6 separate regions of the Homo sapiens genome follow, and regions 2, 3, 4, 5 and 6 are each linked to region 1. Evidence: fine-mapped expression QTL. A gene starts in region 1. Each other region holds a variant in brackets. All regions are shown on one strand. Distances are from middle to middle.

What was found. PIP is the estimated chance that this variant, and not a neighbour inherited with it, causes the effect.
Region 2: its variant is fine-mapped to the expression of GALNS in whole blood (INTERVAL, PIP above 0.99).
Region 3: its variant is fine-mapped to the expression of GALNS in monocytes after Pam3CSK4 (Quach 2016, PIP 0.95).
Region 4: its variant is fine-mapped to the expression of GALNS in whole blood (INTERVAL, PIP above 0.99).
Region 5: its variant is fine-mapped to the expression of GALNS in whole blood (TOPMed, PIP above 0.99).
Region 6: its variant is fine-mapped to the expression of GALNS in whole blood (TOPMed, PIP above 0.99).

What each region holds. Positions count from the first base shown.
Region 1 is chr16:88,855,382-88,859,381 of GRCh38, reverse strand. GALNS (galactosamine (N-acetyl)-6-sulfatase) reads left to right here and starts at 2,435. Exons shown (of 14, transcript NM_000512.5): 1 at 2,435-2,624. The coding sequence starts at 2,505. TRAPPC2L (trafficking protein particle complex subunit 2L) reads right to left here and starts at 2,255. Exons shown (of 5, transcript NM_001318525.2): 1 at 2,199-2,255; 2 at 591-763. The coding sequence starts at 2,231. LOC107983950 (a long non-coding RNA gene) reads left to right here and starts at 2,802. Exons shown (of 2, transcript XR_933884.3): 1 at 2,802-2,931; 2 at 3,081-4,000. RefSeq lists a silencer at 2,303-2,702.
Region 2 is chr16:88,833,890-88,838,053 of GRCh38, reverse strand. It overlaps GALNS (galactosamine (N-acetyl)-6-sulfatase), which reads left to right. Exons shown (of 14, transcript NM_000512.5): 5 at 289-432; 6 at 1,787-1,853; 7 at 2,205-2,329; 8 at 2,702-2,841. Among named protein-coding and RNA genes, the nearest start is that of GALNS, 21 kb to the left of the region's middle. The variant T/C (reference allele first, on the strand shown) is at 1,682.
Region 3 is chr16:88,897,780-88,901,779 of GRCh38, reverse strand. CBFA2T3 (CBFA2/RUNX1 partner transcriptional co-repressor 3) reads left to right here. Exons shown (of 12, transcript NM_005187.6): 2 at 124-276; 3 at 3,628-3,702. Among named protein-coding and RNA genes, the nearest start is that of PABPN1L, 33 kb to the right of the region's middle. The variant G/C (reference allele first, on the strand shown) is at 2,219.
Region 4 is chr16:88,878,601-88,882,600 of GRCh38, reverse strand. It overlaps CBFA2T3 (CBFA2/RUNX1 partner transcriptional co-repressor 3), which reads left to right. Exons shown (of 12, transcript NM_005187.6): 9 at 1,112-1,310; 10 at 1,813-1,881; 11 at 3,141-3,331. Among named protein-coding and RNA genes, the nearest start is that of PABPN1L, 14 kb to the right of the region's middle. The variant T/C (reference allele first, on the strand shown) is at 2,054.
Region 5 is chr16:88,819,634-88,823,797 of GRCh38, reverse strand. GALNS (galactosamine (N-acetyl)-6-sulfatase) reads left to right here. Exons shown (of 14, transcript NM_000512.5): 12 at 1,088-1,209. Among named protein-coding and RNA genes, the nearest start is that of APRT, 9.8 kb to the right of the region's middle. The variant C/G (reference allele first, on the strand shown) is at 2,523.
Region 6 is chr16:88,813,824-88,817,987 of GRCh38, reverse strand. It overlaps GALNS (galactosamine (N-acetyl)-6-sulfatase), which reads left to right. Exons shown (of 14, transcript NM_000512.5): 14 at 3,463-4,164. The coding sequence ends at 3,549. Among named protein-coding and RNA genes, the nearest start is that of APRT, 4.0 kb to the right of the region's middle. RefSeq lists enhancers at 1-203, 798-1,297, 1,298-1,799 and a silencer at 1,722-1,831. The variant A/C (reference allele first, on the strand shown) is at 2,139.

The DNA.
Region 1 (4,000 bases):
CCCTCTTCATGAATCAATGCCTGGCCCGGAAAGTTAACTGCAAAACCAGAGGCTTCGTGAACAAGGCGGATCCCCTCTCTAGAGGCCACATTATTTTGTAAAATAGTGGCTACTAGCAAATGTCACCATGGACAGGCTACATGATGACTTTTGGGAAGGTCTTTGAATTCCATGGCCTCAAGTGATTTGTCCCAAGGGACTAGACGAGTGTCTAGTGACATAAGAGGCAAGGCCTAATGAAATAAATGAAACTATTATCCCCTGCTCAAAGGTGGTGGCTCCCCCTGAAAAGCACAGAAAGAAATCCTTGCAGGTACAAAGCAGAAGTGTCCCACTTCCTCTGCAAACCAGACAACGGACACGTGCAAACCAAAACATTCTACGGGGAATTCTAGCCTTGCTTTTCCCAAATGGCTCTTCCAATGAAAGAGAAGAGTTACAGGCCTTCATTCACCTCAAGCTACCCTAATTCCCTGGCTGGCTAAAAACTCTCACCTCTTTTTCTTCTAAAAGGTTTCAAGTTATCTGATCCTAAAGTACATCTTGCAACTGTAGGTCCTCCCTGACACACACCCTGCCCTGAAAGATACACCTTGTAGTCCTCCGTGGGGTAGAGCAGGCCCAGGTACAGCTCCCTCTGGTCGACCAGGGCCTTCCCCATTGCGGAGATCTTCTCATCCACCACGTCCAGAGATGTGTGCACCATGTAGTGGAACTTCAGCTCGTTCTCCGTAGGGGTGCTGCGAATGTAGAGGGGGTAATTCTGCAAGAAAGGATGACGGCGACTGAAAGGACAAGACTCCACCCAGCGCACACCAGCTCTGAACTATGCTGCAGAGCCGTGACCTGCAGCCACCCGGGGAACGCATTCCCATGCTCTAAGGCCCACCGCTTCATTCTCTATGCCGCAGTGGGCACTGCCTTCAGGGGATCCCAGCTAACCTAAGGAGATTTATGTGTTGTTTGCAAAGCAGCAGCAGTAGGGTGGGCGGAAAAGAAAAAATGAATCAGAAAAATGGGCCTGAGCACAGCCTGCCGATCAAGCCTGGCACCTGGGCACGCCTCTCACCTTCTCCTGGAGGCCACTCTGCCTCAGCCCACCTCTAACTCTGCATGGCTCACCCAAATACAGCACCCTCAATACTGGCTTTTCTTCACCTTGACAGTGACCCTTTTACTAAACCCTTCAAGACTCAGCTCAAATTCCCTTCATCTCTGCATTTCTGACCATTGGAAGCCCAGAATTAACAGCTTCTTTCTCGGTCTTTCACACACCACCATTTACCCTGTGTGTGTTCAGCACTGGGTCCTGCACAAATACAGTGAACAAGAGTCCTCGCTACCCTCGTGGGGAGTGATACCTAGTCAATAAACCCACAAACAAGCAAATGATCATCTTGGCCAAGAGGGAAGCCCATGAGCAGCTTAGCAGCAGCCACCGCCCAGCAGGGAGCGGTCTCGAGTCTGGTCTCGGGAGACCCTGGCTAGGAAATGAAGGCTCCGTGCAGCAGGAGCGTGTGGGCAGCCACCCAGCTCAGTCTTAGCCTTCAGAAAATGCTTTCCAGTTGAAATGTATGTGGGCCAGTAAAGAGGATGGGAGCTGGGGAGAGGTGTTCCGCGTGCAAAGGCCCACAGGTGAGAGGGCAGAGCATGTCCAGGGAGCTGCAGAATTGTTTGGTTGGAGCGGAGAGTGCCAAGGGTTATGGGGGGAAAGGATCCCAGAGCAGGTTATTCAGACAGCATCCTAAGGCAACGAGAAGCCACTGCAGAGGTCTCAGGCAGAGGCGTGACAGGATCCGATTTGTTTTTAACTCGGCTCCGGGGAGACTGGCAGGAGGGCCGGGGCCGCCGTCCGCGGGGAACCAGCGCTGGACGGGAGAACGGGCAGAACCTGCTGAGGACGGAGGACGGAGGTAGTGCCCGGGACCACCTAGGTTTCTGGTGGGTCCTGGCGGGGAGGAGACCTGCTGCGCCGAGGGGTGCGTTCAGCAGCGGGACGGGCGAGCGCGGAACTGGGGTCTCAGTCAGGGTCTGCCTGGCGGCTCGTCCACCGCGAAGCCCCTGACCGCTGGAGCTCGGCGAAGGCCTCCTCCAGGTCCCATTTCCTAAGGTGCCTTCTAAGCCCAGGGAAGAAGTAGAAAGAAAGCGGAGAGCCGAGGATGGTGCGAGCCCGGACGCCCCACGCCGCGCGTACGCACCTCCTTGGCAATCACCGCGATGCACACCGCCATCTTGGGAGGCTCGGCGCCAGGCACCGCGTCACGTGACCCGCCGCTGGTCACGCGGCCTCCAAAGCCCCGCCCCATCCGCACACAGCTGGCTCAGGCCCCGCCCCACTGGTCACGAGGCAGTCCAGGCCCCGCCTCCCGTCCCTCCGCGGACTCTGGCCCCGCCCCGCGAGTCACGTGGCCGTCCAGGCCCCGCCCCGCAGCCCAGCCGGAAGGGCCGGCGGACGCTCGCTAGGTCGGCTCGCTGGCCGGGGCTCCGCGGCTCCCGTGGTTGCCATGGCGGCGGTTGTCGCGGCGACGAGGTGGTGGCAGCTGTTGCTGGTGCTCAGCGCCGCGGGGATGGGGGCCTCGGGCGCCCCGCAGCCCCCCAACATCCTGCTCCTGCTCATGGACGACGTGAGTGCGGGCGGTGGGACGGGGCAGGGCCGGGGTGGGGCGGGGAGGGGAGGGGCGGATGGAGGGAGGAGCGAGGTGGGGGAAGGGCGGGCGGGGTGGGGGGAGAGGTGAGGGGAGGCCCCTTGGGGAAGGGGGGAGGCCCCGCGCGGGGAGGAGGAGGGGGAGGGGACGGGGGGTATCCCCGTGCGGGGAGGGGGAGGCCCCTCGGGGAGTGGCCGCGGGGTCCAGGCGTGGGGTCTCGGCGGTCACCGATCACCACACGCGCTGCCACTGTGCTGCATGACCGGGACAGCGTCCTCCCTGGCAGGTGGGTGGCCGGCGTGCTACCGGGCCCTGCCTCCCCCGTCTGACCTTTCCCGCCCTCTACTCTTGGGAAAGGTGGGCGCGCAGCGTGGCCTCCCCAAAGGGAGGAAGAGGCTGCTCCTGCCGCCCTGCCTGAGAGCTGCGTCGCCCTAGGAATCACTCCCGCCACCTCGGGCCGCCGGGTCCCCCCGCTGGGCTCCAGTCTTACCTGACGGCTGTCTCTGTCCTCTGGAGAATGCTGAGCGAAGGTCAGGTGTCCCTAAGGTCTGAAGAACTGAAAGGCTGGAATGTCTCCTGGTGGGCAAGTGCGGGGTCAGGGGTCACAGCCAGCCTGGAGGCCTCCTTCCCTAACTCCTTGTGGGAGCCACCTGGAGACTCAGGAATGAGCCTGCCTGGGGCATGGGTCACCGTGCAGGACCCCAGACACACCTGGGTTGAAACCCTACTGTCTCCAAGCTTGGGGGTCACTTCCATTCTTGAACCTCAGCTGCCACACCTGGGGGGTTACACCTGTCCCGCCGTGCTCACGTTGTGTGTGAGGACTGGGACGACACCGAGTACCAGACAGTTTTGGGCCGTCGGTGTCGCTCAGCCCCTGTGTGCTGGCTCCGACCAGCAGAGACCCTGACAGGTGCCTTCAGACCCACCTGTGCTGACCAGTGGGGGCCACGGGCCACACCCAAGGGCTGGGCAGTCGTGGCTGTCGGAATTGGAAGGTGCTGGTAGTGTAAAATACACAGATTTAGAAGACTTGGTGAAAGAAAAATAATGTAAAATATCTCACTTAACAATTTTATTAAATTAATGGTTTTTTAACATAAAGATATACTTGAAAAGATAACAGACACCACCCATAATTTCCCCACCCAGGGGTGACAGCCGACAGTCCTGGGCAGCTGCTTTTCCATCTCATATGTCTTATTTGTGTGCAGTGACTGCTTTCCAGAGCACGCTCTCCAGCGCCCAGGGGTCCGTGTCCTGACAGCAGTAGCCGGGCCTTTCTCTGCACTGAGTGGCATCTCCCTCCTAAAGATACTTTGCTTCAGAATTTCATCCTTTCACTTTTGAAGTTC
Region 2 (4,164 bases), 21 kb after region 1:
GGCTCCTCACGATGCACCACCCTTCACCGTGCAGGGAACCCCGGCCGCCGCCATGCCTGCCGCCCTCGGTTGTGCCCAGACGCTCTGCAGGGTAGGCGGGCAGTGCCAGCACCCTCCTCGGGTGAGGCCTTGGTCTTTTGTCCCTGCCGTGCCCAGGCATAGCCCATACTCAGTGCTGGAGGGTGCTCGTCTTACCAAGAATTTTGTGAAGGTGGTATCTGTTGCTGCTCAGAACTTCCGAGTGTCCCCACGTGGGGTCCCTGAAGTGTCCTGGGTTCCTGTTTCCAGGCATCTGGGTCACAGGCCCCAGTTCCACCCCCTGAAGCACGGATTTGATGAGTGGTTTGGATCCCCCAACTGCCACTTTGGACCTTATGACAACAAGGCCAGGCCCAACATCCCTGTGTACAGGGACTGGGAGATGGTTGGCAGGTAATGGAGCCCCACCCCTTCCCCTCCCACGTCCTGAACTGCTGTGCCCGGCGTGCCTGCCCCCCGCCTCTAGCACTGGTGGGCTCAAGTCGCCACTCATGAGGGCTGGTCTGTCCCTGGGTCCCCGGGCACCGAGGGCTTTGGTTTGGTGGCTTCTGTCCCACCAAGTTTTGCCCCAGAGCCTATGAGACTCCTGCCTGGGGTTTCCCACCTTTTCAGGGTCGTAGATCCCTGTAGCTGTCCTGAGAGAGGAAGGCCCCCAGCAGAGCGAGCCCACACGGTCTGCCCTAGCTGTCAGGGTACTGCCCATGTGGTCTACGGGTGGGGAGGCCGGCTGTGCTCCAGACATCCAGGGACATGGGCAGGACAGGAGGTGGGATGAAACCCCCACTGGGAGCCACACCAGGAGCAAAAGCCGCTGTCCAGACAGAGCCGTCCTGGTGCCCGGGCGTGGGGGCAGCACCTCTTGACACGGCAGTGCCGGGTCCGGGACCCTCATCTTTTGTGAATTTTATTTTGCTTAACTTGACTCTTCTTGGCGGAAGTGCTCATTCATTACATGACGGTGACCAGAAGCAGCACCAGCTTGCTGCCTCTTTCTAGATAGAGCCCCGTGGAGGTGTGGGAGTCGCACCACGCAGCCCCCATTTGAAGTGTGCAGTTCTGTGGTTGGCATTAGTCACAGGCTGGGACAACCAGCACTGTAGCTGCTTCAGAACGAGCCCCATGGCCTGAGCGGCGGCTCCCCAGCCCCAGCCGAGTGACCACAGCCGCCTCACTGCCTTCACCTTGGTGTCGTGCCCTCAGCCCCATTCCCCCATCTTCCCATGTGGCAGGTTATTGCAGCACCGGCCTCAGCCAGGTCATCAGATGCAAGACCGTGCCCTGGGGGAGCGAGGGATGCGTCCAGCTTGGTTGTTCCCTGAGTGGACATTTCATTTCCAGGCTTCCTTTTTTTTTTTTTTCTTGAGACAGGATCTTGCTCTGTCACCCAGGGTGGATTGCAGTGGCGCGATCTCGGCTCACTGCAACCTCCGCCTCCTGGGTTCAAGCAATTCTCCTGCCTCAGCCTCTCAAGTAGCTGGGATTACAGGCGTGCGCCACCACGCCCAGCTAATTTTTGTATTTTTAGTAGAGACAGAGTTTCACCATGTTGCCCAGGCTGGTCTCAAATTCCTGACCTCATGATCCACCTTCCTCAGCCTCCCAAAATGCTGGGATTACAGGCATGAGCCATGACGCCCAGCCC[T/C]AGCCTTCTTTTAAATGAAGCCCATGGCTTTGCTGGTGAAATCAGGGAGAACGGGACTTTCTTGGCCTAAATTCTGAAGTCTGTCTGGATCTGTGTTCTTTTCAGATATTATGAAGAATTTCCTATTAATCTGAAGACGGGGGAAGCCAACCTCACCCAGATCTACCTGCAGGTGATGGGGACCGCACCATCCTCGCCCTGTGGGACGCATGGGGACGGGGACCGCACCAACCTCATCCTGTGGGAGGCGTGGGGACAGGAATGCATCAACCTCACCCCGTGGGAGGCATGGGTTCAGGGACCTCATCACCCTCGCCCCGTGGGACGCGTGGGGACGGGGACCGCACCATCCTCGCCCCGTGGGACGCGTGGGGACGGGGACCGCACCAACCTTGCCCCGTGGGACGCGTGGGGACGGGGACCGCACCAACCTCGCCCCGTGGGACGTGTGGGGACGGGGACCGTGGGAGGCATGAGGAGGTCGGCCTGAGGCTGGAGGACGACGGTGTGGCTCTCTCCATAGGAAGCCCTGGACTTCATTAAGAGACAGGCACGGCACCACCCCTTTTTCCTCTACTGGGCTGTCGACGCCACGCACGCACCCGTCTATGCCTCCAAACCCTTCTTGGGCACCAGTCAGCGAGGGCGGTGAGTCCTGGCTCCATGGAGCATAGACCTCGCTGGAGGCCCCAGCTGTGCTTGACTCCAGAGATGGGACACTCAGTACCGTGGCATTTAGGCCAATTATGGAAAGGCCAGAGCAACCCCACCCCTTTGAAGCCGTCCACTGGCCTGGGATCAGCAGAGGAGGGCTGTGGTGGGGGTGCTGGCTCTGTCCTTCATAAGCCACATGAACTTGAACTGAGGCCATTCCTCTTCTGGGAAGAGGCCGGCCAGTTTCACTGTGGTCTGTGAAGTTATGATTTAATGAACTCCGTGAATCACAGTATGCCGTTGGCTGCCTGATCCATTTGTCACCATCCTCCAGGTATGGAGATGCCTTTTGTCACCATCCTGCAGGTATGGAGACGCCGTCCGGGAGATTGATGACAGCATTGGGAAGATACTGGAGCTCCTCCAAGACCTGCACGTCGCGGACAACACCTTCGTCTTCTTCACGTCGGACAACGGCGCTGCCCTCATTTCCGCCCCCGAACAAGGTGAGTGCTCGCTGTCACTTCTCACGGTTTCCCCACAGCCAGCGTGTCAGCGAAGAGTGCCTGGACCGGCTGTGCCCACGGGGTCTGTGGTGGGCAGAGCATGAAGGGTCCCTCTGGGTCCAGCGGGAGGAGCAGATGTCACCGAGCCTCGAGCAAGGCCCTTCTGGCCCAGGACTAACCTGGAAGCAGGAGTGACCTTGAACTTGGGGGTGGGGAGGAGGTGACACAGGGGAGAGGGTTTGTCTTGGAAGAGGCTGACGCCTCCCGAAGGGTGACCCCGGAGGCCGGAGGCTTTGGAGGCCGCATGGAAACAGCAGGGCCGGTGGAGCAGGGTGTCCCTGCTGAGGTGGGGGCCGGCACCCCAGACCCCGAGCAGCCCTGTGAGTGTGGCCTGGACCTGGTCACCCAGGGGCCGGGCTGCCTCCATGAAGATGGACTCCTGCCCCCACCACAGCCCTGTCAAGTGGTTCCTGGGATGGAGCTTCAGCCTTTCCCCCGCTCGGCACTGATGAATGCCTGACCCATCCCCAGCGCCAACAAACCTGAACCCGCCTCTTCCCAGACCACGCGGGGGGGGGCCCTGCAGCCTCTTCCCAGACCACACGGGGGGGGCCCTACAGCCTCTTCCCAGACCACGCTGAGGGGGGCCCTGCAGCCTCTTCCCAGACCACGCGGTGGGGAGAGCCCTACAGCCTCTTCCCAGACCACGCTGAGGGGGGCCCTGCAGCCTCTTCCCAGACCACACGGGGGGGGCCCTACAGCCTCTTCCCAGACCACGCTGAGGGGGGCCCTGCAGCCTCTTCCCAGACCACGCGGGGGGGCCCTGCAGCCTCTTCCCAGACCACGCGGGGGGGGGCCCTGCAGCCTCTTCCCAGACCACGTGGTGGGGAGAGCCCTACAGCCTCGTCCCAGACCATGTCGGGGGGCGCCTACAGCCCAGTGTGCTGCGGGGATTGGGGGCTTCAGAGTTTCAAGTGATAGAAACCAGCACAGCTGAAAGCCAAAACAGAAGCATAGGCTCCCTCGCGCCACGTCCCACCAGATAGCTCCCCTGGGTGAGCCTGGCTCTCGTGCAGGCCCTCCGGACAGCTCCATCTCCCGCCCACTGGAGTCAGACCCACGAGTCGAGGCCCCCAACAGACCCATGTGTGGAGGGCTACAGGCAGCTCCCAGGAGGCAGGGTGCTGGGTGGGGGGAGGGTGGTGTTGGCCGTCATTCCCCATGGGGAGCCCGGGGGGGCCCACCTCGACGCCAGCACCCACAACCACCAGCCAGCAGGGGCAAGGGTCCCAGCGACCTGAGTCTTCATTTCTAAATGATGGA
Region 3 (4,000 bases), 42 kb before region 1:
GGCAGACTGCCCCAGCGCTGGGCGGACACTCAGTGGGGCCTTCGCTGGGAACCGTGGGGCTGCGGGCCCTGGCCTTTGCACTTAGCCTGCTTCACCGACTCTTTCTTTCTCCGTTGGTCGCAGCCCCAGTGGACAGGAAAGCTAAGGCCTCAGCGATGCCGGACTCCCCAGCGGAGGTGAAGACGCAGCCCCGGTCCACACCCCCCAGCATGCCGCCCCCACCGCCTGCCGCATCCCAGGGGGCCACACGCCCCCCCTCCTTCACGCCACACACACGTAAGTAGCCCCCACCTGGCAGCCGAGGGCCAGGTGTTTCAGGGGAGGCCCTTGTGTTGTTTGAAATTCTGAGCTTCCTGCCCGGAGCCAGCGGGCACCTTCTGTGAGCCCTGAGTGTGAGGAGCTCGTGTGGCCCAGAGCCCAGGCTTGGCCGGTTCAAATCCCAGCTTCCCTGCTTCCCACTGGGTAGCTCCGGGTCATGTCCTTGCCCTCCGGGGGGCCTGGGCTTCCTCTTCTGCAATGCAGGTCCTCCCAGGGCTGTGGTGGGGCCAGGTGAGTCCACACAGGCCTTTCACCAGGGCCGGCCATGGGTCAAAGCCGGCCGCTGTGCCTCAGGCTTCCTGCCTCGTCCGGCAGGCCTAGGAATGCCAGGCTCATCCAGAGAGAACGTGGAACTCGGATGGGGTCAGGGGCTTCCGCAGGGTCATACAGCAGGTCACCTGCGTACAGGCCCCGTGGAGGGACCACAGAGGCAGCTCTGGCCTTGGAGGGGCTCAGATCTCAGGAGCTCCACAGCCCGGCTGAGCACGGGGGCCAGGGTGGGGGCCTTGGCACAGGAGGCCGGAAGGGTGGGACCTCAAGAAGCTGTCAGGCCTTGTCTTGCTGGCCCTGGCAAGGGGTTGGCCGTGCTTGGCGCACAGAGCCGCCGATGGTGGGCCCTGGGAGGCTGTGGGGCAGGGAACAGCCAGTTCTCATCACAGTCACCCGCAGAGCCTTGGCTTTGAGGACAGACATTGGTGCTCTTTGGCCCAGTTGCTGGGCCGGCGGGGTGGCAGCGTCCCTGTCCCTCAAGGCTGGGGGCTCAGGAGTGCATCTCAGTGTCTGCAGGGGGGAGACTCCATGTACCACCTCCACATGCAGCGGCCAGAAAGCCCCGTACCTGGGGGACCCTCCCCAGGCTCTGAAACTCAAACGAAGCCCCTCTCTGGGCGGGGAGCCTGAGACTTCCGTCCTGCTTGCCCCGGGTCCCTGACGGGCCAGAAAGAGCTGCTTCCTCAGTCCCTTTACGTCACGACTGTCCTCAGAGCACCGGGTGGCTATAGGCCAGGCCTGGCTCCCTCCCTGGCTCTGCCGCTGAGGCTGGGGGCCTGCTCCGCCGAGGGCTTTGGCCATCATCTCCCCTCCATCTGGAGAGAGCACTGGCTGTGCGGTCAGGCAGCAGATTTGCGGCCCTGTTTGTAGGATGTTGGCTCCGAGTCAGCCTCCCGACTTGGTTGGGGAATGGGGTGGCCCAGCAATGGGGTGCCCCCAGGTGTGCCGCCCAGAGGCAGGTACAGCTGGAAATGTGCCCGGCACTCAGTAGGAGCCAAACAGCCTAACGGCTACTCCCTGCACCCGCGGGGCCGGCCCTGCCTCAGAGAGTCGGGACGCCGCACTCACGATTTTGCAGGTCCTGGGGGACGGCGGGCCCAGCGTGCAGGTCCTGGCTCTGCGGAGCTGGCCACGGTTTCTAGTGAGAGGCTGGCTGGGCTTTTTCTCACATGTCCTTGTCACACGGCGATGTGGCCGGGCTGGGATCACCCTTCCCTCTCTTCGGAAGAGCCCTCCGGTCTGGTACAAACCACGGGCCGTCTCTCTACCAGGCAGCTTGCGACCACACCGAGCCCACATAGGTAGAGGGAGACCGCTGCTGTGTTAAATTTGCAGTATACCCCAGCCCCGGGGGAGGAAACGCTCAGGACGGACCACGGGAGACCCGGCCATGGGCGCAGTGCCTAAAACACCCGCTCCACAGACAACCTCAGGCCCCACTGTCAGGGACAAACACCGTGGGCTGAGCCTGGTTCCCCAGACCCTCAAGGGTGCGTCTCCCCCACCTGCTCTTCCCTGGGGACCAGCAGCCTCTGCTTGGAAGGTGCCGGTCTGATGCTCCTGGCTGGAGGTGGGTTGGGATCAGCAGAGCGTCGGGCTCTGCTTCTGGAGACCTGTGAACGGATGTGAG[G/C]GCAGCCGGCATGCCTGGGGCTGGGGTCCTTCCTGCTCCCTCCACTCCCAGCCCGCCTTGGGGTCATGTTTTTGGGGTGAGGTCCCAGCTGGTTTAAGGAGCGTGAAGGTTATGAAAGAGATAAGCAGGTGCTTTTTCTTTTCTAAGCCGATGCTTCAGTCCCACTGGGCTGTCAGCAGCATCAGTCTGAGGCTCTGGCCACCCCTGAGGTAGCCTCAGATTTATCCCCTAATCCACACAATTCCGTGAAAGCCAGGTGGTTGGCCGCACCCCTGCCCCTGGCTGGTGGGTGGTGGGTGCCCTTCAGGGGCCACAGCTCAGTTGCAGAGCCCTGCCGGGAGGCTCCTCCCCGGGGACTGGCCTCTGAGCCAAGCTGATGGGAGACTGAGTCTGAACGGAGACTTGAGGGCCGAAGTTTCTCTTGCCCAGTGACAGCCCTGGGCGCAAATTCATCTTGGAGTTGAAGCTGCGGTGCTGCTGTGGGGTGGGGGGTGGGGAGGGGGAAGGCATATAAGGAGCAGGGACCCAGACCAAGCTCCTCTAAAGCTGGGAGGACGCTTAAAGGGCTAAGGCTTTATCCTGCCCTTGATTACCCCCATGACAGAGAACTCACTACCCGTCTTTACTAGAGCCTGTCTTCCTGTGGCCTGCGCCACTGACTTCAGCTCGAACAAATTCAATCTTTCTTTCTTTTTTTATATAGTAGAGTTTGGGTCTCCCTACGTCGCCCAGGCTGGTCTTGAACTCCTGGGCTCAAGCAATCCTCCCGCCTCAGCCTCCCAAAGTGCTGGGATTACAGGCGTGAGCCACTGAGCCCAGCCGAATCTTTCTTCCTGTTTGGTGCTTCCTCCTCCAGTGCCGACCCAGGGCTTTGTTTCAGAGACTCCAAGCCGAGTCTCAGGTCGCTTTTAGGACACGCGGCTTCGGCCCAGGTCCCTGAGGATGGTGCTCATGGGGTCACAGGGGCCTTCTGGGAAGAGGACGATGAAAACAAGGGGCCCCGCCCCTGCTCATAGAGAAGCCGCGGTTCTTGTAAACTCCGGAACAGTGCTGCCAGAACGGCCCTTAGGGATCACCCACTCTCAGAGAAGGAAACTGAGGCTCGGAGAGGGGAGTGGCCTGGCCCCAGGTGGTGACAGAGCCCCGTCAGAAAATCACTCTGAGAAGCAGGAAACGGCGGCCCGGGCGTCCCTGAGGGCAGAGTCTCCTGCCCAGGCCCCTCCGAAAATCAAAAATCACTCTGAGAAGCAAGAAAAGGCGGCCCGGGTGCCCCTGAGGGCAGTCTCCTGCCCACGCCCCCACCAAAAATCACTCTGAGAAGTAGGAAAAGGTGGCCGCGGGCGCCCCTGAGGGCAGAGTCTCCTGCCCACGCCCCTCCTGACAGCGTGTTCTTCTTATTTTGCTTACAGATCGAGAGGACGGGCCTGCGACGCTGCCCCACGGCCGTTTTCATGGCTGCTTAAAATGGTCTATGGTCTGTCTCTGTAAGTAAAATAACAAAAACCGCAGGCCTCCCCAGAGGTCTTCACCGCAGCATCCTCAGCTGGCCCAACACTGCTGCCCTGGGGGCGCTCAGCTCTCCTCCCCGGCCTCCGCACCCTCAGCATTGCCTCTGTTGTGTTGGTCTTGCCTCCTTAGGGAGAAGAGGGCGCAGGAGGGCAGAGCCGCCGGGTCGCTGCATCCCACAGACCCTCCGCTCCAAGCTGCGGGGCCTTAGGCAGGAGCAGAGCCTCTCTGAGCTCTCCTTCCCCAGCAGCAAAACATGGCCAATGGGGCTGACTG
Region 4 (4,000 bases), 23 kb before region 1:
CACAGCCATGCACACACAGCCACGCCCACAGCCATGCCCACACACAGCCACACCCATGCACACAGCCATGCCCACACAAGCCACGCCCACACAGCCACAGCCACGCCCGTGCAGTCACACACAGCCACCCCCACGCACACAGCCACGCCCACGCACACAGCCACACCCACACACAGCCATACACACACAGCCACACCCACACACACAGCCATACCCATGCACACAACCCCCCCATGTACACAGCCACACCCACGCACAGCCATGCCCACACACAGCTACACCCACACAGCCATGTCCCCACACAGCCACACCTGTATGCCTATGCATAAACACGGCCATGGCTCTGCCCCATGGGGCCTGGGGCTGCTGGAGACAGCAGGGCTGTGTGGGCGCCCCTGAGCTCAGTGCCCTCCTGTGTGGCCTGCGCCGTCCCTGCGCAGCGGCTGGGTCCTTCACCTGAGCCCCCCTCCTCCCAGCTGTCAGCGCAGCCCAGGCATCTCGAGAGGCCCAGGGAGGAGGATTCCTAAAACCCTCATGGCGGGCCTTGCTTCCCTCCACTTACTTTCTGCTCACTGGCTCTTCCCAGAGTCTATCCTGAGTCTTGCAAGAAGTGTGGGCAAAAGCAGTGCCGAGGCCTCTTTGAGGCAGGACGTGTTCGGGGACGGCCCGGAACTGGGCTCCTCAGAACCCACCCACCCCATCCTGCAGCACGTCCCAGGAGGGGTCGCCAGGCATGGGGCCAGCACCCCTCCCAGCACTGTTGTCAGCCTCGCCCCTCGCCCTCATGCTTTTTGGAAGGGGAGCCCAGGCGGAAAGCCAGGTCCCTGAGGCAGAGCCCCGCTGAGCGGGTTAAAAAGGAGAATCCCAAACTCCTGCGTGCGTCTAGGCACGTGTCCATGTGAGTCTGGTACCCCCAGGCGCTCGGCAGTCCCAGGCTAGGGACCCATCTTTGCAAGCCATGGAGGTGGGCCCTCCCTCACCCCCTTACTCTCACGGGCGGTGGGCTGGTCGGGCACCCATCCTGTCCGGGGCTCTGGCCGAGTGGGCTGGGGGAGTGTCTGGTGCGTCCCGGTCCCTCTGAGGTGCTGAAGGCTGCGCCGCCCGCCCCCAGCTCCTGAACTGCATCATGGACATGGTGGAGAAGACGCGGCGCTCGCTCACGGTGCTGCGCAGGTGCCAGGAGGCCGACCGCGAGGAGCTCAACCACTGGGCGCGGCGCTACAGCGACGCCGAGGACACAAAGAAGGGCCCCGCTCCCGCCGCGGCCCGGCCCCGCAGCAGCTCCGCCGGTCCCGAAGGGCCTCAGCTAGGTGCGTGTGGGGTGTGGGGGGAGGGAGCAGACACGGGGTGCTCTGGTGGGGCGGACACCTGGGAGCTGTCAGGCAGGCAATGCAACGAAACACCAGGCAGAACAGTTTCGCTTGAGAAAGAGGCACCTTTTTCACTTTGTAGGAAAACACGGGCTGGTCTGCCAGGAAGCCTGGAGCTCAGAGCGTCTGGTGGGCCAGAGGCTCGGAGCTGGGAGGCCCTGAGGGTCTCTGCTTCTCCGCCTCAGCGACGAATGCTGACACAGGAGAGGCCCAGGACACACACGGCTCCCAGCCGAGTCCAAGGTCCACAGCTCCAATGCCCCCCGTGCCCGGGCACTGCCCTGGGTGCCTGAGCCAGACCTTGTCCGAGGGCACCTGGGCCTCCCCCCAGGGACGCACACACTCACGCCCTGCACTCAGGGCCCAGCCAGGGTGGGGAGGGCCCCAGCGTGGGAGGGGCAGCCGCGTGGCCCATCCTGTGTGACGCCGGCCCCTGTTTCAGACGTGCCTCGCGAGTTCCTGCCGAGGACCCTCACCGGCTACGTGCCTGAGGACATCTGGAGGAAGGCTGGTGAGTGGGGGTGCAGGGGCCTGGCCAGCAGAGCTGTGGGAGGCCAGGGCCCCAGATGCGCCTCTCACCGGCTCAGCTTTGAAGAGCTTCTGTCTCTCTCTGGGGGCTCAGGCTACAAGGCTTTCTGCATTCCGCTGTGTGGCTCACGGAGAGGTCAGAGTAGGTTCACACT[T/C]AGGGCAGGACAGCTGCTACCTGCGCCTACCAGGAAACGGACCGGTGGCCGCCCAGCAGAATAAAGTGGGTCCTGGACCTGCACACCCAGGAGGGCACGCAGAAGCGCACACACTCGGAGCCTGGGCGCGTCAGGCACGCGGGGCCAGAGTCCGGGCAGAATGGGGTCAGAACAGGGGCAGACGTGGAGCTGAGCGCTGGGCAAGGCTGTGGGGACATTTGCTCATGCCGTGGGAATCAGCCTTGGGGGAGGGGCTGGGGCAGAGCCAGATATGTGGGCAGCAAGAGGGGTTAGGGTTGGGGTTAGGGTTAGGGTTAGGGTTGGGCAGCGGTACCGGGGTCTCCAGCTGGCCTCAGGGTCTCTTTCAGTGGTGGAGTTGAAACATGGCCTCCCCAGCTGCGTGGGCAGTGCTCCCTGGAGGCTGCTCTGAGCCTACCCCATCTTAGCACAGATCAGGATCTGTGTGTGGCTGTGTGTGGGTCGGGGAGCATGGTCTTCAGAGGCCAGCCAGGTTAAAGGATGGCAAGTGCGGTGAGGATAACAGCAGGGTCTGGGGTGACAGCACAGAGCCCTGGACGAGGGGGCTTCCTGGGCTGCGTCTGGGTGGGGCCAGAGGTGAAGGCGGAACGGCAGAGTTATCCAAGTGCTTCAGGTCAGCAGCAGCTCCCCCGGCTCGCGTTAGGAATGCAGATTCCGGGTGCGCCCCTGGCTGACCAGGCCCTGGGGTGGGCCTCGCCCTTGCCCTGCAGGGGTGCAGTGCCTGGGGAGCCGCTGCGGTAGAGTGCAAGCTTTGACTTGTGACACCACGTGACCCAGCTTTGCACACACATGCCTGGGATGCCTGTGTTTATTTGCATGCACTTGTCTGCACAGGCATGAGGGCCATCAACGTGTGTCTGTGTGTGCACAGATGCTACGTGTGTTCAGCTGCCTACAGCCCCATCAACATGTGCCTTTGTGTGCACAGATGGTACGTGTGTTCAGCTGCACACAGCCCCTGTCCCCAGGTTGTGGCCACGCGTAGGAAGTCCAGAGACCCATCTGGGATGGCCCATGTGACCGCCAGCCCTGCCCATGTCCTTTGCAGAAGAGGCCGTGAATGAGGTGAAGCGGCAGGCCATGTCGGAGCTGCAGAAAGCCGTGTCGGACGCGGAGCGCAAAGCGCACGAGCTCATCACCACGGAGCGTGCCAAGATGGAGCGGGCCCTGGCCGAGGCGAAGCGGCAGGCCTCCGAGGACGCCCTGACGGTCATCAACCAGCAGGAGGACTCCAGCGAGGTAGGGCCACCCGGCCACGCTGACACCCATCCCCTGCCTCGGCTCCCGTGCGGTCCCACGCCACCCCCATGAGGATTCTGAGCCTCCACGTGGCATCAGCACAGTTGTCACGGGCATCCTGCAGCAGGCACGCCATCCCCGCCCACACTGTGCTTTATCAGCACAGAGATCCCACATGGTTCAGTGAGGCGTCCTATGGATGTCCCCGTTCTGTAGTTCCAGAAACTGAGGGCTCGAGAGGGTTGGCAGCTTGTCTGAGGTCACGGCCTTGGGAAGCGGTGGGGCCAGGACTCGAGCCCAGGTTGGCTGATGCTGAGATGGAGTTTCACTCTTGTTGCCCAGACTGAAGTGATCTTGTTGCTGTGGCATGACCTCGGCTCATTACAACCTCCGCCTCCCGGGTTCAAGCGGTTCTCCTGCCTCAGCCTCCCAAGTAGCTGGGATTACAGGCGCCCGCCACCACACCTGGCTAATTTTTGTATTTTTAGTAGAGATGGGGTTTTGCCACGTAGGCCAGGCTGGTCTCGAACTCCTGACCTCAGGTGATCCACCCGCCTCGGCATCCCAAAGTGCTGGGATGACAGAAGCGAGCCGCTGTGCCTGGCCTGAAACCCGTGTTCTCTAGCCTGTGAGAACAGGAGGATCCAGGAGAGCTGTGAGGGCCCCAGG
Region 5 (4,164 bases), 36 kb after region 1:
GGGCATCGGTCCCCGGGCATTGCCGCCTGCGAGGGCCGTCCTGGGCATCGTTCCCCGGGCATTGCCGCCTGCGAGGGCCGTCCTGGGCATCGGTCCCCGGCATTGCCGCCTGCGAGGGCCGTCCTGGGCATCGGTCCCCGGCATTGCCGCCTGCGAGGGCCGTCCTGGGCATCGGTCCCCGGCATTGCCGCCTGCGAGGGCCGTCCTGGGCATCGGTCCCCGGCATTGCCGCCTGCGAGGGCCGTCCTGGGCATCGGTCCCCGGCATTGCCGCCTGCGAGGGCCGTCCTGGGCATCGGTCCCCGGCATTGCCGCCTGCGAGGGCCGTCCTGGGCACAGTCCTCGGACGAGCCCCTTGGCCTGCAGCACCCGCTCTGGGAATGTTAGAGGCATACCTCGCCTTTCCCGAATCAGGAGGCCCAGGGGCAGCAGAAAGAGAATTGTGGTTACTGTAAAATCCTTGCCCTTCTTGAGTGTGTGAATCTGTGTCAGCTCCCTGGGTCTGTTTTTGTTTTCTGTGTTTTCTCTTGCCTTTCACATGTTGGTCCTGCTCCTCCCTGTCTTAGGGTTTCTGTAGGGATTCTGAGCGTTGTGGCTCTCCCTTCTCCCAGGGCAGGGCCTCCCTTCCCGTCCCTTTCCCTCCCCTCCCTTCCCCAGCAGAGAGTAGGCTGTTAAAAGGGGCTTTCCTCCATGAAATTAGTGGCAGTCCAGATCTGAGGCTGGCTAAGGTGTTTTAAATACACTCACCTGCCTCGCAAAGAAGAGGGGTACATGAAAACAGGGTACGTGAGGCATGCCAGCTACGCATCTCGGGCCCAGAGCGGGTGGCTTCACCTCCTCCACAGGATGCTTATGGGCCCGCTAGTCCTTCAGCGTTTAGCCAGCGCCCTGCACCATGCTGAGTACCAGGGACGCTGCTAGGCACAGGCAGACGAGACCCCCCCACGGCCCCCAGTTAGGGGCTCCAGGACACAGGCAGACAAGGCCCCTCACGGCCGCAGTCAGGGGCTCCAGGACACGGGCAGACGAGGCCCCTCACGGCCGCAGGTCAGGGGCTCCAGGACACACCTTCCCTCTTCTCATTGCAGGGCATTGATTTCTGCCCTGGGCAGAACGTTTCAGGGGTCACAACTCACAATCTGGAAGACCACACGAAGCTGCCCCTGATCTTCCACCTGGGACGGGACCCAGGGGAGAGGTTCCCCCTCAGGTGAGTCGGTGCAGGGCCTCCTGGCTGCTGAGGCAGTGCCAGCCGGACTCCCCCAAATGCAGGCTCCACAGGGACAGAGCCCTCTGCACCCTGCCCGCCGCCTCCCCTTGCCTGCATCTGCTGTTGCTATTCATACCCACACGTGCTTGGTGGCCTGCCCTCCTCCCAGGGTGCCTGCTGCTGCCCACCCTGGTGGTCTCCCCACTTCTGCCCCTTCTGGGCCACCATCCACCTGGCCCCCAGTGATGTATCCCCTACTCTGAGCTGCATTTGGGGATGGCTGAGGCCAGAGGGGAGGGGTCCAGGCCCTGGGGCAAGTAGGAGGTACAAGGACACAGGTCAGCTAGCAGGAGGAATGGCAGAAAGCCACCAGCCCCAGCTCCACCCTCTGCTCTCTGGGCCTTGTCCTCACCCCACCGAGGATGCCGGAGTCTGCGCCATCACCTGCCAGTTTTCAGGGAAGCCCTCCCCTTACCCTCAGGAGTCTTGAGGGTCATGGTCGCCAGTACCAGACTCACCTGCTGGCAGCTCCTTAGGGGCGACACAGAGGCCCCAACACTTGGCTGGAGACCCCGCCCTGGCTTCCTTTTTTTTTGTCCGAACCCATCTCCCTGGGCTAGGGCTACCTGGAGGCTTCCCCCCCTCACCCCAGCAGGATGAGCAGGTCCCCAATTCCTGCTCCTGGCCTGGGGGTCCTGGGGCACGTGCATGCCTAGTGGTCTCCAGCATTCCTGCCCTATCGAGTTGGTCCTGGGAAGACCCAGGAGCATCAGGGGAGTGGCGTGCAGAGGCAGAACCAGGCCTGAGCACAGCGGTTGCTCCCTGCCCAGGCTTTCTATGCTCCCCGATGGGCCTGGGTTTGAGTAGGGCCGGTGGGAGGCAGCAGAGAGCAGTACAGGACCGAGGGTGGCAGCACCACCGCCAAGGTGCCCTGAGGCTCCTGCACCCTCTGGACGGGGCAGCCGCCTTCCCACGGGGCTGAGCCTGCGGTGAGGCTCCTGGGCTGCAGCCCCTCAGGGATCCCTTGGGCACTTCCTCGGCAGCACCTCTCCTCCACCGAGCGTCCAGCTCAGAAGCCCAGGATGGTGACTGCGGGAAGGCAGCATGGAGCCTGGAGTGGACAGCAGTGTCCCCAGGCCCAGGTCCACCCACACCTCCCAGCTTGGCCTGAAGGGAAGTAGGGCCTGTGCCTTGTGATTAAGGCACGGGTGGCGCTGGGTCCAAGGCCAAATGCCCTGAGTCCAGAGGGAGGAGACACAGACATGGTGAAGGCCACGGGACGAGACGGGGACTGGACAGAGCGCCACCAGCCT[C/G]GGCTCACCTGGGGCCACTGGAGCTGGAAGAGGCAGGAAGGAGCCCCAGTTCCTCCAGGGGTGCACAGCCCTGAGACCCTTGGTTTCAGCCTCTGGCCTCTGGAAAAGTGAGGGGCATCTGCAGTTTCATTGTTTTAAGCCCCAGTTCATGGTCATATGTTGTGGGGGTGCCGAGATACAGAGACAGACGCCCCCGGGGGACTCGTGATCACCCATGGGGGTGAGACCCGTGAAACCATGGGGGGCCTGGAGCTTGGGGCCTTGTGGAGCTGGAGGGGCTGTCTGGGAGCCCCCTGTGCCCGCAGAAGTCACTGAGGAGCCAACAGCCCCCCCAGCTGGAAGCGCCGTCCCAGGGGGACCACGGGGAGCAGATTGCAGGCCCCAGTTACACAGAACAAGCTGCTGGCCACACCGGTGCCCGCCACACCCCCCACAGGCTGGTCGCTCCAGGGACCACCCGAGGTTAAAGCCTGGATGGCGGTGCCCCCTCGCGTCCACTGGGCGTGATTGGCATCCACAGGGGGGTCCTCAGGGCCACTGCTCCCCGCCTGTTGCGTTTGCTGGAGCCCCTCCAGCCAGGCCAGAGCAGAGACACAGTCCCACCCACCACAGCCACCCAGCCCCGCCCTCACAGCTGGAGAAGGCAGGGTTATTTCAAAGCAAACCCAGGCAGCAGGCAGAGCTTCCCAGAGGGGGTCACAAGGAGGCCCAGCTGTCGGCCATGCCTTTGAGAACCACTGTCCCTGAGGTCACACACCCATGACACAGCCTGATTCACCGTGGGCTGCTTCTCAGACACAGACACACATGTCACTTTGCCAGGAGCCTCTCTAAATTAAAGACGGGTGGCCGGTCGCCATGGTTCATGCCTGTAATCCCAGCACTTTGGGAGGCTGAGGTGAGTGGATCACCTGAGGTCAGGAGTTTGAGACCAGCCTGGCCTACATGGTGAAATCCCATCTCTACCAAAATACAAAAAATTAGCTGGATGTGTTGGTCGGTGCCTGTAATCCCAGCTACTCGAGAAGGTGAGGCGGGAGAATTGCTTGAACCCAGGAGGCGGAGGTTGCAGTGAGCTGAGATCGCACCACTGCACTCCAGCCTGGGTGACAGAGCAAGACTCCGTCTAAAGAAAAAAAGACGACGGGGCCAGGCATGGTCACTCACACCTGTGATCCCAGCACTTTGGGAGGCCGAGGTAGGAGGATCTCTTGAGCCCCAGGAGTTTGAGACCAGCCTGGTCAACACAGCAAGACCTTACTGGTACAGAAAATAAAAAATTAAGGCCGGGCACAGTGGCTCACACCTGTAATCCCAGCACTTTGGGAGGCCGAGGCAGGCAGATCATGAGGTCAGGAGTTCGAGACCAGCCTGACCAACATGGTGAAACCCCGTCTCTACTAAAAATATAAAAATTAGCCAGGCGTGGTGGCGGGCGCCTGTACTCCCAGCTACTCAGGAGGCTGAGGCAGGAGAATCGCTTGAACCAGGGAGGCGGAGGTTGCAGTGAGCTGAGATCATGCCATTGCACTCCAGCCTAGGTGACAGCGCGAGACTCTCTCTCAAAAAATAATAATTAAAATTAGCCAGGCACAGTGATCTATGGTCCCAGCTACTCAAGAGACTGAGGCAGGAAGATCGC
Region 6 (4,164 bases), 41 kb after region 1:
GCGGCCGTCTCTTTGCCGGGGCTGCAGCCACCCACCCGGGGCCCAGGATGAACCGTGGCCAGCACAGGGCAGAGGCAGGCGTGCTTCCCCGCCTCCGTCAGTGGTGAGGCCCTCGTGCCTCAGAGCACACGCGGCGGCGTCCGGGATTCGGGAGGCAGGAGCCAAGCGACTCGGGGACCAGAACAACGCTGCACCAGGGCAGCCGCAGGTCCACAGCCGGCCACCCGGGCCTCTGCCTGGCTGAGCTGAGACTGGGGAGCTCCAAGGCCCCTCTCCTGCCCCCCACAAGTCACTGAGGGACAGCAGGGCGCGTGAGAGGGTCCGGGGTCCCCTGGTCCTCGACTCCCACACGGGCAGCTTCTCCTTGCAGGGGCCCTGTGATGACCTCCAAACTCCCGGGCTCTGAAGGCACCGAGGCAGGAACGGCACTGCCCGGTGGGTCCCGGGTGGGCTGGTGGGCACTGTTGAGTGGCGGCGGCCCCAGGGCCCACCTGCGAGGTTCTCATTTGTGCCTCCTTCATGCTGGGCCAGCCCCAGAGACCTTCGCATCAGACCTGATCTCACTCATAGGCACCCACCCAGAGCAGCACCTCCGTGCAGCCTGACAAGACCAGGCCTTGTTCACCTCCAGTAGAGAAACGGCCTCATCACGCCAGCATCGGCCAGAAACACAAGCACAGACGTGCCTCCAAAGTTTCACTGAAGTCTGTGTTCAGGCCACAAAGGATGCGTCGTCGTCTTGTCCAGCCCTGGGGGCCGCAGCAGTCAGGGCCTCTCAGGAGCAGCTTTTCTGTCCCCTGCTTGGGGGTCCCATAGGGTGGCATGTGGACGGCCCAGCCATCCCGCGTGTGCAGTGGCCGCAAAGGCCTGTTTCCCAGCACAGCTGATGTGGGTCCCAGCAGGGCAGGTCTTCACAGCTCCTTCAGATGGGACACGTGCGGCCCTCGCTCTAGTCGGCAAAAACGAGCCACACACAGGTCTGCGGTGTCGCTCCTGGGTGCCCAGAGCCCACCGAGCACAGTGGAGATGGCCGAGCCCAGCCTCGAGGCCCCTGGGCCGTCGCTCACCTGTTTACACGGGCTGGGCGTGGCTGCCCACAGCCCCTGGATCTGCCGCGCAGGATTCGGGAAGAAGGCCCCTCGGCAGCTGCAGACTTCAGCCTGGGCTCCTGCTGTGCGGGCGAAAAGGCCCAGCTGAAGCCTCTTTCCAGGGCCAGACCCGGCTGCAGCGTGGGAGCCGCTGGGTGCCCGCCGTGCCGTGGGAAGGAAGGTGGTGGCTCTGAACAGCCAGGGAGCCACAGCGTGGGCCGGCGGATGTAACAGGAGAGCACCGGCCATCGGGAGCACCTACCAGCAGTGAGGACCATGGAGGGCAGATGGCCTTGTCCCTGCCCAGGGACAGTCCACCCTGCAGGGTTATTTAGGACTGGGCAGGGCAGGGCCACCTCCGTTAGTTGGGGGGCGGGGGGCGGGGGTGCCTGGCAAGTTTCATAGGAAGATATTCAGGGCCCTTCCTTCAAAGGGACCTGGGCAGCTGGCGTCCCCGCCTCTGGACTCAGTGGTGGAGCAGGGAGGTCCCTGTCTCAGGACCCCTGAGTCTCGGGGCCCCAGGAGCCCAGGGCCACCAGCCGTGGAGGAGCCCTGGCCTTCTGCCTTCCACACCCAATCCCACTCCGTGCTGCTGGGTCCTTCTCTACGACCCAGGCTGCAGTGGCTCCACGGGCGCAGGCCACACCTGCCATGGAGACAGTGGGCACAGGGCAGGGGAGGTGGGCGCACACAGCCTGGCTGCCACTGCCATCTCCTGGGCACTGGGGGAACTGCCCCCACCGCCACACCTGTGCTCTCTGCAGGGGGAAAAGTGCCAACTCAGACCTGGCGAGCTGAGCCACTGGGGTCTGAGGGGCCCAGATGCCACCGTGAGCAGAGCCATGGGGGAGATGCACAGACACGCGTGTGAAGCCTGGGGGCCCTCCTTACCCCTTCCCTGCCCTCTGTCCCCGCCAACTCCAGGCCAGCCCCAGGAGAGGGGCTCAGTGGCGTCTCTGGCACAGAGGAGAGGGAGTGTGGCCACCTGGACCCCTGCTTCTGGGACAGCTGAGCGGCCTTTGAGAAATGCAGATCCCCCATCCAGACTCA[A/C]ACACACCCTGCGGCTGCCTCTGCTGCCCCTGGAGTTTGGGAGCAGCTTCCTCACCCAAACCCACTCCTGCTCTGGTGGCCAAGGGGGCAGGGACACTCATGCGGCATCCCTGCTGCCGCCTAGGGCTGGAGACTGTCCTTAGTACCCTGAGCAGCACCCAGAATCCAAAGTCTGTCCCCGGAAAGTGCCCTCAGGGCCATGCGGCGTCTGACGTGGCACAGAAGTGGCCTGGATGGGGACACAGAACCAAACTGCACTCATTTCAGCCAAGAAGGCTCCTCTTAGCGGCATAAGTCTCCCTTTCTGTTGCCAGGAAAAGTGCCCTCCCATCAAGCAAGGCTTCCGCTAAGCAAGGCTGCACTGTGAGGTCCACACACACCCAGGCGATGGAGGGGTGCGGGCTCCGCTCAGCACCGCACTGAACTGAGCCCAGCAGCGCAGTAGGGACTGGCTTCTCCCTGGGAAAGGCTTCTTGAGAGGCTGAAGCTGCAGGAGAGGGTGATGAGTTGAGAAGCTCAGGGTGGGCCCTCCTGGGAGGACCGCCTGCCCTTTCTAACACTGCTGGCCCTCGGAGGCCCTCAGCCACTTGGCAGCTGCATCCCCCATACCCGGGACCTCCCCACCAAGTTCTCATTTCTCCAATGGCAGCCTTCAGAGCTGAGAGGCCGAGTCAAGAGGGTGCCATCTCCCAAGTTCCCATGATTCCTGGGGAGCGTCTGTGTAGCTGCCCACCTGGACCGAGGTGGTCCCCACACTGAGGCCAATTGGTTGGGGTCCGGGGTTGACCTGGGCAGGGGACACATCAAAACTGCTCGAGGCCAAGCGCGGTGGCTCACGCCTATAATCCCAGCACTTTGGGAGGCCAAGGCAGGTGGATCACCTGAGGTCAGAAGTTTGAGACCAGCCTGGCCAACTTGGGGAACCCTTGTCTCTACCAAAAATACAAAAATGGTTGGGCGTGGTGGCTCACACCTGTAATCCCAGCACCTTGGGAGGCCAAGGCAGGTGGATCACGAGGTCAGGAGTTCAAGACCAGCCTGGTCAAGATGGTGAAACTCCGTCTCTACTAAAAATACAAAAATTAGCCAGGCGTGGTGGCGCGTGCCTGTAATCCCAGCAGCTACTCACTCAGGAGGCTGAGGCAGGAGAATCTCTTGAACCCGGAAGGCAGAGGTTGCAGTGAGCCAAGATCGCGCCACTGAACTCCAGCCTGGGTGACAGAGTGAGACTGTCTCAGAACAGCAACAACAAAATGCCCGCTGCTGCTGGGTCCAGAAGAGCTTGAATAACTGCATGTTCTTTTTCTCAATTTTCATTTCCCAGAACTGGGCACCTCCGGGCTGTGAAAAGTTAGGGAAGTGTCTGACACCTCCAGAATCCATTCCCAAGAAGTGCCTCTGGTCCCACTAGCACCTGCGCAGACTCAGGCCAGGCCTAGAATCTCCGGTTGGCCCTGCAAGTGCCTGGAGGAAGGATGGCTCTGGCCTCGGTCCTCCCCCAACCCTGCCCAAGCCAGACAGACAGCACCTGCAGACGCAGGGGGACTGCACAATTCCACCTGCCCAGGACCTGACCCTGGCGTGTGCTTGGCCCTCCTCCTCGCCCACGGCGCCTCAGATTTCAGGACCCTCCTCCTCGCCCACGGCGCCTCAGACCTCAGGACCCTGCCGTCTCACGCCTTTGTGAACCCCAAATATCTGAGACCAGTCTCAGTTTATTTTGCCAAGGTTAAGGATGCACCTGTGACAGCCTCAGGAGGTCCTGACAACAGGTGCCTGAGGTGGCTGGGGATACAGTTTGCCTTTATACATCTTAGGGAGACACAAGATCAGTATGTGTATGGCGTACATTGGTTCAGTCAGCCTTCCACTGAATACACGATTGAGTCTGGCCCAGTGAATCCGCATTTTTATGTAAACAGTAAGGGAACGGGGCAATCATATAAGCGTTTGTCTCAGGGGAGCCCCAGAGGGATGACTTCCAGTTCCGTCTGTCCTTTGTCCACAAGGAATTTCCCTGGACGCT